2 separate regions of the Homo sapiens genome follow, and region 2 is reported to be linked to region 1. The links are microRNA targets in miRTarBase. Many come from high-throughput screens and were not tested one by one. Region 1 holds a microRNA gene; the other region holds the end of a gene's coding sequence.
Evidence for each region. Region 1 holds the annotated microRNA hsa-miR-371b-3p (AAGUGCCCCCACAGUUUGAGUGC, at 3,987-4,009, opposite strand). A microRNA usually pairs through its seed, bases 2 to 8, with sites in the 3' UTR of a target mRNA and lowers its output. Matches are read on the target gene's strand: a 7mer-m8 pairs with bases 2 to 8, a 7mer-A1 pairs with bases 2 to 7 and ends in A, and an 8mer does both.

Region 2: the mRNA of TBC1D21 is a reported target of hsa-miR-371b-3p. Seed matches in the 3' UTR shown: 7mer-m8 at 6,373-6,379.

Annotation. Positions count from the first base shown.
Region 1 is chr19:53,783,692-53,790,807 of GRCh38, forward strand. MIR371B (microRNA 371b) reads right to left here and starts at 4,051; the gene lies at 3,986-4,051. It overlaps MIR371A (microRNA 371a), which reads left to right and starts at 3,984; the gene lies at 3,984-4,050. It overlaps MIR372 (microRNA 372), which reads left to right and starts at 4,199; the gene lies at 4,199-4,265. MIR373 (microRNA 373) reads left to right here and starts at 5,014; the gene lies at 5,014-5,082. It also overlaps LOC124904767.
Region 2 is chr15:73,888,419-73,895,534 of GRCh38, reverse strand. TBC1D21 (TBC1 domain family member 21) reads right to left here. Exons shown (of 11, transcript NM_153356.3): 10 at 7,022-7,105; 11 at 6,321-6,466. The coding sequence ends at 6,434. Among named protein-coding and RNA genes, the nearest start is that of TBC1D21, 18 kb to the right of the region's middle.

The DNA of each region.
Region 1 (7,116 bases):
AAATTGGGCCAGGCGTGGTGGCTTATGCCTGTAATCCCAGCACTTTGGGAGGCCAAGGTGAGAGGTTCGCTTGAGCCCAGGAGTTTGAGACCAGCCTAGGCAACAAAGCAAGACCAGCATCTCCCTCTCTCTCTCTCTCTTCTCTCTCTCTCTCTCTCTCTCATATATATATATATATATATGTATTTTTTTTCTTTCTTTCTTTTTCTTTTTTTGAGACGGAGTCTTGCCCTGTCACACAGGCTAAAGTGAATGGTGTGATCTCGGCTCACTGCAACCTCTGCCTCCCAGGTTCAAGCATTTCTCCCTGCCTCAGCCTCCCGAGTAGCTGGGATTACAGGCGCCCACCACCACACCGGGCTAATTTTTGTATTTTTTAGTAGAGACGGGGTTTTCTTATGTTGACCAGGCTGGTCTTGAACTCCTGACCTCAACTGATCCGCCTGCATCAGCCTCCCAAAGTGCTGGGATTACAGGAATGAGCCACTATGCCCAGCCCATCTCTATATTTTTAAACAAATTATACAACAAAAAAGTAAAATATCACATTGGATATTTTTTCTTTATTCTTTGTTTTTTTTTTTTTTTGAGACAGAGTTTTGCTCTTGTTGCCCAGGCTAGAGTGCAATGGCGCGATCTCGGCTCACCACAACCTCCGCCTCCCGGGTTCAAGCGATTCTCCTGCCTCAACCTCCTGAGTAGCATGCACCACCACCCCGGCTAATTTTGTATTTTTAGTAGAGACGGAGTTTCTCCATGTTGGCCAGGCTGGTCTTGAACTCCCGACCTCAGGTGATCCGCCCACCTCGGCCTCCCAAAGTGCTGAGATTACAGGTGTGAGCCACCGTGCCCAGCGGATCTTTTTTCTTTTCTTTTTTCTTTCTTTCCAGGGATGGGGTCTTGCTCTGTCACCTGGGCTGGAGTTCAGTGGCAGGATCAGGCCTCACTGCAGCCTTGAACTCATGGGCTGAAGAGATCCTCCCACCTCAGCTTTCCAAATTGCTGAGATTACAGGCTTGAGCCACTGCCTGCAGTCCTCTTTCAAATGCACTTAAAAATCGTCTTTGACTATACTCTTTGTTGAATGTTGATTAAATTCAATTGCACTAATAACATTTTTTATATTCAAAAATACAAACGTTGGCCGGGTGCGGTGGCTCACGCCTGTATTCCCAGCACTTTGGGAGGCCGAGGCGGGCAGATCACCTGAGTTTGAGAGTTTGAGAACAGCCTGACCAACATGGAGAAACCCCGTCTCTACTAAAAATACAAAATTAGCCGGCGTGGTGGCACATGCCTGTAATTTCAGCTATTCGGGAGGCTGAGGCAGGAGAATCACTTGAACCTGGGAGGCGAAGGTTGTGGTGAGCCGAGATCGAGCCACTGCACTCCAGCCCGGGTGGCTGAGGGAGACTCCGTCTCAAAAAAAAAAAAAAAAAGTCAGCAATGAACTCGCTGTGCTGGCCCAAGGGCAGGAGAAGAAAGCCGCCCTTAAAGGAGAAATTTGCAAAGACAAAATGAGGTGATGAGAAAAAGCCGAGTTCTAGGAAATACCCGAGAGATCATCCAGGTGGTTCACAAATAGCAGAAAATCCAGGTGCAGTGTGAGAGGAGTGAGTAGGTTAGATAGGAATCTGGATGGCTGAGCTGTAAGGACATAAGCACTGACCTCCCGCAACCTTGACAAAGATCAAAGCAAGAATTTTTTTTTTTTTGAGATGGAGTCTGGCTCTATCACCCAGGCTGGAGTGCAGTGGCGTGATGTGAGCTCACTGCAACCTCTGCCTCCTGGGTTCTAGCGATTCTCGCCAAACATGCTATTTGCTGTCTCATTTCTATCTCTCGCCATCCTTTGCAGCAAATGCTGTACATTTTCATTGATGAAGGAACTAGGTTTAACCAGAAAGGTTGAGCACGTACTCCCGCAGCTGGCTAGGATTACAAATGGGAAGGAAACCCTGGCCTCCTGGGGCCCCAAGTCTTCCCCTTCCTTGAGTCATTCATTATTTTGAGCACTTACCATTTTCAAGCCCCTCCTCACCTCTCCAACACCCACCTTTTTGAGTTCCTCTCTATGCCTCAAGGTCAAAGGAACTCTAGTGGTTTCATTAAATAAAATCAGAAATGTTTCCGCTTTTTTATCAAAGTTGCTCTCAAAAATGTTCACTGCCGCACTGTTTTTTTCTTTTCTCCCTCTCTTTTTTTTTTTGAGACTAAGTCTCACTCTGTCGCCCAGAATGGAGTGCAGTGGTGTGATCTCGGCTCACCGCAACCTCCACCTCCAGGGTTCAAAGGATTCTCCCACCTCAGCCCCCTGAGTAGCAGGGATTATAGGTGTGAGCCACACCGCACCCAGCTTTTTTATTTTTTTAAAATTTATTATTATTATTTTTGAGATGGAGTCTCACTCTGTCACCCAGGCTGGAGTGCAGTGGGGCGATCTTGGCTCACTGCAACCTCTGCCTCCTGGGTTCAAGCAATTCCCCTGCCTCAGCCTCCCGAGGAGCTGGGACTACAGGTATCCACCACCACGCCGAGCTAATTTTTGTATTTTTAGTAGAGACCATGTTGGCTAGGATGGTCTCGATCGCTTGACCTCGTGATCTGCCTGCCTCGGCCTCCTGAAGTTCTGGCATTATAGGCATGAGCCACTGTGCCCAGCCTATTTATTTATTTTTTGAGACACGGTCTCACTCTGTCCCCAGGCTGGAATGCAGTGGCACAATCTTGGCTCACTGCAACCTCTGCCTCCCGGGTTCAAGCAATTCTCTTGCCTCAGCCTCCCAAGCAGCTGAGATTACAGGTGCACACCACCATGCGTGGGTAATTTTTGTATTTTTTTGGTAGAGACGGGGTTTCGCCATGTTGCCCAGGCTAGTCTCGAACTCCCGGCCTCAAGTGATCGTCCGCCTCGGCCTCCCAAAGTGCTGGGATTACAGGTGTGAGCCACTGCGCTCTGCCAAAATACTATATTTAAATATTTGTTGAGTGGATGACTGGTGGAATGATTTTCTTCTGGTTATTTCTCTGTGTTTTCCAATGTATTTATAACGAATACATGTTGGCGTTACTAGTAATAGGGATCACCTAATTTCTATTTGAATCAGTGTTTGAAAAAGTTTATGAAGGTGTGTCTGACTAAGGCAAGCTAGGATCAAAGGGAGCAGGGTGGCTTGGGGCGGAGACCAGGGGGAATGAGAGGGTGGGAAGGGGTGGGCTTTAATCCTATCAAAGTTGAGTGGGCTCTCACCCTATATAAGAACGCAGCTGCAGTGAACCTTGTTCTTTCTGGCAGACCTGAGGTGTGGACGTATCATTGGCCTCTGTGAGTATTGCTATGTTATTTTATTTTCTTTCATTTTACTTTATTTTTTAGGGTCAGGATCTCACTGTCGCCCAGGATGAAGTGCACAGGTAGGATGATGGCGCCTTGCAGCCTCGACCTCCTGGGACTCACCCTTTTAGCCTCCAGTAGCTGGGACCACAGGCGCGCACCACCATTCCCATGTGCGTTTTTCTGCTTTTTTTTTTTTTTTTTTAGGAGAGATGGGGTTTTCTATGTTATCCAAGCTGGTCTCGAACTCCTGGGCTCAAGAGCAATCCTACCACCGTAGCCTTCCGAGTAGCTGGGACTACAGGCTTGAGCCACTCCGCCCAGCCGGGCTGTACTTTTGTTCTATTTCTGTGATTTTTTTTCAGTCTTAAGGACGAAGGCCCCACTGTCCCTCACACGTGTTCCTTCCTACTTGCATTGTACTCAGTCCTCATGGCTTGCATCTGGAGGCTATGGGCGGGGGAGTGCTTTGAATATCTATACGTGGAAAGCCTTGTTTTTTACTTTTTAAGAAAGGGTCGTTAAATTCGTGCTTTGTAGACCTTCAACAGCTCATCAAGGGCTACTCTCCACCTCCTTGCTTAAAAGCCTCTTCTGATGGGTAAGTGCTTCCACTTGCGATCGCCGCCTTGCCGCATCCCCTCAGCCTGTGGCACTCAAACTGTGGGGGCACTTTCTGCTCTCTGGTGAAAGTGCCGCCATCTTTTGAGTGTTACCGCTTGAGAAGACTCAACCTGCGGAGAAGATACCATTTTGATTGGGTGAGGGGGCGGGTAGCAGGATGGCCCTAGACCCTGCCTATGGCCGTTTCCTCGTGATATAAATTTCTTGGCCGGGGCTCTTGCAGATGGAGCTGCTCACCCTGTGGGCCTCAAATGTGGAGCACTATTCTGATGTCCAAGTGGAAAGTGCTGCGACATTTGAGCGTCACCGGTGACGCCCATATCAACGGATGCCGTGGAGCTCGGTCTTCTGCAGGAACTAAAGAGCCTGTGGTTTCGATTCCCAGCCGGAAACTGTCTTGGGTACAGGTCCCTTACAGCGTCTGGCTGTAATGGCTCCGGAAAACCTGGGGAAGGGAAGGGGGCCTCCTGGGCTCTCACCTGACACAACTAAGGGAATCTGGGTTAGATGGTGAAAGGAAGAGAAGGTTCAGAGGGCGGCTGTGCGCCTGCGCCGGGCGCGGCGGCTCACACCTGTAATCCCAGCACGTTGGGAGGCCGAGGCAGGCGGATCACGAGGTCAGGAGATCGAGACCATCCTGGCTAACACGGTGAAACCCCGTCTCTACTAAAAATACAAAAAATGAGCCGGGCGTGGTGGCGGGCGCCTGTAGTCCCAGCTACTTGGGAGGCTGAGGCAGGAGAATGGCGTGAACCCGGGAGGCGGAGTTTGCAGTGAGCCGAGATCGCGCCACCGCACTCCAGCCTGGGCGACAGAGCAAGACTCATTCTCAAAGAAAAAAAAAAAAAAAAACAGCAGCTGTGACCAAGGGGCTGTATGCACAAAGAAAGGAATGCTTTTTGCTGTTGGTGTTATAATTGATATGTAACTTTCCTCTTCCCCCATAGCAAGCAAGTTTATTGCTGACATTTAACATGTGCTTGGATGATTGGAGGCCAACCTCTTGTAGGCAAGAAAGTCACAGTGATGGCAGATCCTCGCGAGGAGCTCATACTGGGATACTCAAAATGGGGGCGCTTTCCTTTTTGTCTGTACTGGGAAGTGCTTCGATTTTGGGGTGTCCCTGTTTGAGTAGGGCATCACGAACCATCCTGCTTCAAGGGAGCCTGCGGGTCTGACTGCAGCTTCAGCTATGACCTGGAGTTCCCGGGCTTCTCTGCGGGGCACCAGTCTGTATGCTCCATTTTAGATAATAAAAATTGGCATATTCTGGGGTGGGCAGGATACGGGGTTCACCTGCAGATGAACAGGGCAGGAAAAGCTTGATGGGGTGTCGGGGGAATCTGGTTGGCCTTAAAGGGAATTTGGGGTCCTGTTCCTGAATTTGGTAGGCAGCATGCATGTAAGGCTTGAAGTGGGTTTGGCCAGAGCATGGGCTGGAGTGCTTCCACCCTGCTACACGGACAATGCCACAGTCTCACTTTTCCTAACTTTTTTTTTTAATAAAATGTGAACAACATCATGTGTTTCTGGTCTATTGGGTTCCTCTGCCACCCACAAGTGCTGGGATTACAGGCATGAGCCTCATGTCTGGCGTTACTGAACCTTCTTCTATGACCCAAGTACATTGCCTAAAAATACTTGTCAGTATTTTGTGCTTCCCTTCTACCCCTGCTAGAACTTAGAGTTATGCTCTTTGAGAGTTCTGCTCTTTAAACTTCAAACAAGTTTAAAAAGTAAGGCCGGGCACAGTGGCAGCACTGCCGAGGCCGACGCAGGCTGATCATGAGGTCAGATCAAGACCATCCTGGCTCACACGGTGAAACCACATCTCTACTAAAAAATACAAAAACATTAGCCGGGCATGGCGGTGGGTGCCTGTAGTCACAGGCTGAGGCAGAAAGGGCATGAACCCGGGAGGTGGAGCTTGCAGCCAGCCGAGGTTGTGCCACTGCACTCCAGCCTGGGTGACAGCGATAACTGTCTCAAAAAATAAAAACCACCCAGGCTGAAGTGTGGTGGCACCATCACAGCTCCCTGCAGGCCTGAGCTCCCTAGATCAAAAGATCTTCCCATATAAGCCCCCCCTCACCCCACCCTTAGTAGCTGGCACCACAGGAGTGTCCCCGCCATGCTCCACTAATGTTTAGTAGAAATTGGGGTCTCATACATTGGCCAGCTTGGTCTGAAACTTAGGGGGAATCAAACATCCCTCCTTTAGTAGAGATGGGGCTTTACTGTCTTGCCCTGGGTGGCCTCCCTGGGATGATGGGTGTGAGCCACAGTGCCAGGCCTAAGTTCATATTTGGAAGGTTTTTTTGCTTCAGATGGTCTCGTGCTCTCGCTCAGGTTGGAGCGCAATGGCGCAATCTTGGTTCACTGCAACCTCTGCCAGCTTAAGCGATTCTCCTGCCCCCGCCTCCCAAGTAGCTGGGATTACAGGCATAAGCCACCACGCCTGGCTAATTTTTTGCATTTTTTAGAGATGGGATTTCTCCACGTTGGCCAGGCTGCTCTGGAACTCCTGACCCCAGGTGATCCACCCACCTCGGCCTCCCAAAGTGCTGGGATTATAGGCGTGAGCCACCACGTGGGGCCTTCAGTAGGTTCTTAGTTGCTGTTTGCCCTATCACTGGTTTCCGGGTCTGCTGGCCACTATCCCCTGTAAGTTTTCCTATCCCCTGTAGGTGTTCCAAACCCTTGCGGCTGCTTTGCCCACTCCACAGTATCTGAACTGAAGTAAGATCTCAAATTCAAGGGAGTTTTGTTTTGCTATTTGTACCCGCAATTCATAAAGCAGTTGTAGCCTCTGTCCCAATACCGCCACCACTGGTGGGGAGTCCGCCACGGTAACCAGTAAGACTTCTCTTTATATTTGACCTACCTGGGCCTCCTGTCATCTTTTCTACGGGCAGCTTGGGGATTGTTAGTTGAGGGTTTTTTGTTTTTGTGTTTTTTTTTTTGTTTTTTTTTTTTTTTAAAGAGATGGAGTCTCGCTCTGTCGCCAGACTGGAGTACAATGGCATGATCTTGGCTCACTGCAACTTCCACCTCCCAGGTTCAAGCGATTCTTTTGCCTCAGCCTCCCGAGTAGCTGGTATTATAGGCACCCACCACCATGCCCAGCTAATTTTTTTTGGATTTTTAGTACAGATGGC
Region 2 (7,116 bases), not on the chromosome of region 1:
CTTACTAACTCCCTAAAGAAATTCTTTTATGTGCCGGCTCAGAATAGAACTTGGAATGCTTAATTCTAGAGTCAGTCAGCTGAAGGGCTCTAAGATGGGAGGGTAGGGAGGTCTATTCCAGAGCTCCTGGAAAGAGGGCAGCCATTGGTGTGGTCCAGGAAGGAGAGTAACAGGAGATCGACTGCGGAGACAAGCTCTGCTCCTGGACAGTGCCCTGCACAGTCACTCCTGTCCTCTCTGGTCCGTAATCACTCACTGTGAGGACTTCCTTGAACTCCCTCTAAGTGGAAGGAAGGAGTCAAACCAGCTGATCACTAATCCCCCTTCATTAAACTCCTGTTCTGAACTCAGGTGTTCTCATTCCTGACCGTACTTTAGAACCACCTGGGAGCTTTTGAAAAAGACCAGTGCCCTGGCCCCACCCCTAGATATGCTGGTTTAATTGGTGGGCCCTGGGAATTGGTTATTTTTAAAAAGCTCCCTTGGTGATTCTAATGTGCACCCAGACTAAATGCTATTGCTTGTGACTCCGCCCTCCCGTGCCTGCCACCAGCCTCCTTCATTTCTGGTTGTGAATCTCTTCCCCACTACAAGCTCAGCGAGCACCAGGGTCTGGCAGGACAGTGGAGCTAGTGCTTTTGTTTGAGGTCCCAGAAATAAGTCCTTTTCCCTCTTGAGCAGTGTGGCTGATGGCACTTGGCACCAACTGGAAATTCCCTCCTCTCTGCCTTGGTCTTGTTCCATCCAGGGGGTCTCTGCCATGGGGGCTGGTCCAGAGAAAGGTCGGCAGGGGCAGGGATAGGAAAGAGAGGCTACTCCTGCACAGCCCTCCTCCACCCTGTCTCCCAGAGCTGCGCGCCTCTCCCCTCACAACACTTGGCCCACCCCAGCTGCCCAGGCTTTGCTGCTGCTGCTTCCATGCGGGACCTGCCAGCCCCATCTTGGGTCCCCACACTCACCCCTGCAGACTGACTTCCTGCAACCCCAGACCCCCAGCCCACTCCCCATCCTGGAGAAGGAATGCACAAGGAATGTTCAGAGCTTTGTTTCAAAACAAGATGCAGTAAACATGGCTGCATCTGGGCCCTCCCACACTTACTGGGGTAATCGAAGGCATAGAGAGGGACGAGGGAAGTAGGACAGAGCTTCCTGCACACACCACCCCTGTCATCCAGCCCTGGACCATCTCGGCCCATCGGTGGGGCTTCAGCTGCCAAGGGTGGGGTGGCCTGTGAGATGAGGGCCTGCTCTGCAGAGGACCAGACAGGAGACTCAGTGTGGGCTGCGGGAGGATGGCAGACGCCAAGTGAGGCTGTGGGCAGGGAAAGAGGTGAAAACGGAAGCTGCCCAAGAGCCAATACCATGGCATAACAGTGGGGCCCTGGGGTTCGCCCATCAGCATTCACATCCGGACTTGGCAAATCACTAGCTGTGTAACCCAGTGCCTCAGGTTCCTCGCTGGTAATGAGAGGGTAATGACTGCACCTGTTTCTGAGTTTGAATTCAGTCATGAGGGTGAAATCAGAATCAGAATTCTGATTCTGTTAGATAAAGCATGCGAGTGCTTAGCACAAGGCGTGGAACATATTAATTACCCAATTAGTACAGCTTCTGTATAATTGTGAGGGTAGGGGTCACGTGCCCTTGTTCGTGACCTCCTGAAGCTCCAGCCCACCAGCTGTCCTTTGGGGTTGGGTCCTGGGCAGTGGAGGCCCTTCCTAGTAGCTATGTTCTTCCTCCTGAAAGGAGGGAGTATCCCTTCCTCCCCACTGACCAAAGGTCTGGTGGCTTCAGGCCAGGACTCGGTTCTGCTGGCAAGCCTGAGGGTAGGTGCAAAAGCCCACCTTCTTTCTTCCTCTCTGAGGGGGGTAACACAGACCCTGGGGCCCAGAGAACTTGGAGTTTTATCCACGGTGCCTCTGTGCAGTTGTTAGTGGGTAGAGAGCTATTATCCTAACTCCAGGAACAAAAAGTGGCCTTGGGGTCATTCAATGTAGCCAGAGAAGAAGGAATAAATGAATGAATTCTCCAGGGAAGAGGCTTAGAAGAAGAGTGAAAGAGAGGTGAGGGTGAGAGCTTGGAAGAAATGCAGCCAATCCAATCCAAGCTTTCATATCTGGCTCAGGACCAAGTTTTGGAAAGCTTGGATGGGGCCTGGCTGCTTCCATTTTCTTTATGCTCATGGCCACGGTGATTCATTTAAAGATATTATGTCTAGGCCTTGCTCATTGGAAGTGTGCTGGGCACTAGTTTTTTCAGAATGAATTAGTCACTGTTTTCATCTCCACCATGATTGCCCTCACCACCAACACCATCATCAATATCAGAGCCCTCCCCACTGCAATCCCCTTCAGTCCCTTCCTTGAATCTCATCTTTTCCTCTGGCACTATTTAAGGAGTACCATTAGAGACAGTCAGTTTTTGTTGGCAGAATGAAAAGTCAGCACTATCATCACCACCACCAGTGATGACATCATTACCACCACCAGATTCTATATCACCTCTGCCACTGATGTCACCATCACTACCACCTCCACCATCATAAATGACATCACACCTCTGCCACCAACACCGCCATATAATTAGCTTCACCACCATCACTGACATTACTACCACCATCACTGACGTCGCCGACATCACCATCACCATCACCGCCATCATCACTGACATTATTGTGTTATTGTCATGGAATTCTTGAGGTATTCCTTTCCAGCTTGAAACCTGTGTGGACAGTGACGCCTTTGCCTGAGTTTTGCTCGGGCCTACTGGGCTTGTTTGCCCACTCAGCCTGGCAGGCATTCGGCTCGCACTATTGGCCTGGAGCCCACACTTGCCAAGGGAGAGCCAGACATGGAGTGTTGAAGTGTGTGTGAACGAATGAGTGTGGGGTCTGGCCACTGCACACAGACAGCCAAGCATGCCAGCTGTGGTGGGAGGGGCAGCTCCAGATGCTGGTATGGGTGCTGGCTGCAGCTGGACCAGGAGTACCACAAACAGCATCCATGGCTGGCACAAGGGAACGCAGCGGTGCATGGAAGCTTGGAGACACCAAGAACCACAGAGCCCCAAAGACGATGTCACAGCCCTGGCTTGGGGAGCTCCTAGGTCTGGGATCCCCAAAAGGCTATAGCTCTTCTCTCCTCTCTTCTCTCCTTCCTGTCACCTGCAACATGGCAAGCAAGGGGTGGGTTTCAGCCCTCTTTGTGTTATAGCTCTTTCAACCCTGCCATTCGGTGGGTCTCAAGTTTTGTCCCACATCCAGGAAGAATGAGGTATGTGGACAAGTGGAGGGTGAGCAAGGCAAAGAGTTGCTTTATTGAGCAACAGAACAGCTCGGAGGAGACCCGCCCTGAGTAGCTCCTCTCCACAGACAGGTCATCCGGTAGTCTGCCTGAGGCTGGCTGAGTCTGGGGATTTTTATGGGCTTCAGAGGGGAGGAAGTGCATGCTGATTTGTCCATGGGTGGCCATGGGCAGACCCAGAAAAAGCCCCATAGGTTGTCACTCCAGTCTGTGGAACTGGCAGCCTGGCCCCTAGTCCTCAGACTGTCCCTGGCCTGAAGGTGGGGTTCACCAGGATCTGCCCCTTTCCACCCAGGATCTGCCTGCCTCCTGCTGTCATTAACCTGCCATCCACGGTGCCCAGGCTGTTCATGATGAGGGGTGCCTGAAGGCCCATGCCGAGCCATCCTTAGCACCCACCCCCTCAGCCTCTCTTCCATGCTTGTCGGTGCCCAAAGTCCAGAGGGGGGCCAAGAAGGCATGGGGCTGGTGTGTAAGTGCTGCCCCAGGTGTGAGCACACCTGGCCGGGTTGTGACAGCACCTGGTCTCAGCCACAGCTTTGCTCCGAAATCAGAGTGGGCACCAGGAGTGGGGAGAGGCCAGGCAGTGGGAGCAGGCAGTTCTGAGCCTGTGAGGGCATGGGGGTTTCAAGGGCCCCCAAGAGTGCAGAGATGCCTGGGTCCACAGCCATGGCAGGGTGGCTGCAGCTGTGCCAGGGAGGGTGGGGCTCCCACCCCTCCAACTTGGAAGGGGGCGGGGCTCCTGCCTGTTTCTGGCTCCCACTGGCTCCATGGAGCATGCAGCCCTCACTGCGCCTCCCCCACTGCAGCTGGCATCATGGCAGTGGCTGCTCCAGATGGGCTGCCACTGCCATCATTAGAGCAGTCCAAATGGTCTAAGACAGTACTGAATAAATGCATGCTGAAATAAACTAGACTGTCATAACACAAACTTAGGCTCTAGGATTTCAATGCTTCCTGTAGTTCTATCTCCAGAATGGACCCTACTAGAGAAAAACAACACTGGGCTGTATAAATGATAAACTAAGTGAGCCAGAGAAGGGGGAATAAATGAATGAATTATACAGCCCAGTGTTATTTTTAAGGACCTGCATAGCAGCATGGTGGGAAGATCCTAATCTACAGTCTGCTGGGCTGGGAGTACTGCAGATGAGCTGAGAGAAGCTCCACTCTTCCAAGATTGTTACTTTCATCACTCCATCACCTGGGATTTATCTGAATCTGGATCAATTTGGTGTCAAGATTGAATCCACCTCGTCCTTAAGACCTAACAGGTTTTCAAATATGCACCCTAGTAGACAAGAGGCTCCTTGCAGATAACACAGGAAATGATGTGAGGTTCAAGGAGGGGGGCTTGAGAGGGGTGGTCGGGGGAGAGGGCTCTGGGATCTGCACCCAAACTTCATCCGCTGGGCTCCTGGGAAGGACTGTGTAATAAAGGGGCTCCAGTGCTTTTAACAACAGATTTGACAGCAAGTGGTCTAGAAGATGAGTTCTTAAATGTTTGTTTTGAAATAGATGTTTGGCATTGTGTGTAGGTCCCAACCAAAAATAATCGGCCATCTGAAGTCACCAGTCTAAAAGAAGCATTAGAAAATGTTCATCTGATGTTTCTATTGATTGTTCTCTTCCCAAGGCCAAAACTAGCTCAGCAAGATGTCTTTTACTCTTGTTCTCTGCCTCTCTGGCAAAATGCAAACACAGTTTCATCCTTGGAGAACTGTCTTTCATGCGGGAACACTTATTTAAATAAACTGCCTTAGGAACATAAAAGCAAAGGAGAAGTGTAGTATATGAATTGACCCATGTGCCTCCCTGCCCAGCAAACATGAGCTCTTTAGCCATGCAGAGAAGGTGTTGCTGGGGGGACAGGCCCTCATTCTTCAGCATTCCCCCTCAACCTTCCAGCAAAGATACAGCAGCTAAGAGACTCAGAGCTGGTCCTGGATGGGAGACTGTCGCCTGAGGGGAAGGAGACCAAGCACTCATTGGGGACATAATGGCTTTGGAGTGATGGTCACTAAGAGTGCCAGGATGGGAGCAGAGGGAGGGACAGTTGGCTGAAGAGTGAGAGGGATGGCCATGCCTTACCTCTAAGGACCAGTTCACAGCAAAAGCAAGGGATCCCTCCTGCCCATGTGTAATGTCAGCCCTCCTGAAAACTTGTAGTCACTGGGCAGGGCAGTGTGTATGTGTGTGCATTCGTGTGTGTGTGTATGTGTGTATGTATGTGTGTTGCTGAGCAGCTCTGGGGGCACCCAGCCAGCCCCAACCCTTCTGCAGTTTCAGCCTTTCTGGCCCATCTACATGTCTTCCCTCAGAGGGGCCAGCTAGAGCATGGGGCAGGCTGGACAGGGGCTCAGGGCTGTGGCACAGCCTGGGGGAGCAGGTGTGATGCACCTTTTCCTCACAGAGCAACTGACTGCCTGGCCAAGGGCAAAGAGTGCATTCTCAAGAAAGATTGATCAAGACTGGAAAATAAAATGTAGCTTGAGGACACATTTGCAGGCTGATAAATGAAGGCACAATTATGAGGGAGGCTTTGAAACCAGGAAGGGAATTGCCTGCTCATCAGATAGTTCTTCCAGGCCAGCCCCTTCCACAGACTAGCAGGAAATCTCTGGAAAAAATGACTTAATTGTGTGATTGATGTGACAGGACTCAGGGGAGCAGTGGGGGTGGGGGCAGAGCCCCAGGACCAGCCTTCCTCTCAGGACCTAAGTCCAGATGAACTAATCCTTATTAAATGTGCTCAGTTTTGTCCTCCACAGGGGTCTGGAAGCCTTTCAGAGCTGGTTCTACTCTAACCATTTGTATCCAGATATGGATCCACCGCAGCCTTGGAAAACCCTCCATCAAGGAGGAGCCACTGACCCAGTCTCTTCCAGCAAGCACCCTCCCTAGTCTCAGAATGTGTCTCTCAGCCAGCCAGCCTCTCTTCCTATCGTACGACCCTGTCTCAGCCCTCATGTGCGTCCCAGCCCCTAAGGTCAAAGACATAGCATCCACCACAAACCATTATTCCAGAGGACTGTTTATATTGCAGCTGTTTTATCTACTCCCTCACTCCAGTGCCCCTGGCCTTCATCCTGCCCATCGAAGGCATCAGTCCACTGCGGGCTTTGGTGTCCTCAGAGGAAGAAATCCTTTAATGTCTGAGGAACCTAGGGAGGAGGCAGGTGGGAGGTGCACAGACATTGGTCTGTCCCTTTCATTCTTCGGTTCTTCTAAGCAGCGACATTCTCCTGAGCCTCTGGGTGCCCAGACCCACTGGGATGGACACAGGGAATGGGGGATGAGGGCCCTGCTCTCAAGTAGTACAGCCTGCTCAGGGAGGAAGGAGCTACATGTGCAAACAACGAGAAGACCATGAGGAGCAACATGCATGGGTCAGTGGTAGAGAACGTGGCACAGTCTGTGTCTCTGAAGTTGAATGCACCTGCCATGGGCTGCGTTTGGGAGATCAGGATAGGCTCTGATGAGGAGGAGGAGGAGGAGGAAGAAGAGGAGGAGGAGAAGGAAGAAGAGGAGGAGTACGAGGAGGAAGAGGAGGAGGAGGAAGAGGAGGAGGAAGAAGAGGAGGAGGAAGAAGAAGAGGAGGAGGAAGAAGAGGAGGAGGAGGAAGAAGAGGAGGAGGAGGAGGAGGAGGAAGAGGAGGAGGAGGAGGAAGAGGAGGAGGAGGAAGAGGAGGAGGAGGACACATCATTGGGGCAACTTACATCCTTCTGGATGAGCTCAGCATAAACCACGCAGGCGGCAGAGATCAGCTCATCAGCATCAAGGTCGATGAGGTTGTTGCAGGCCTGCATGGGAG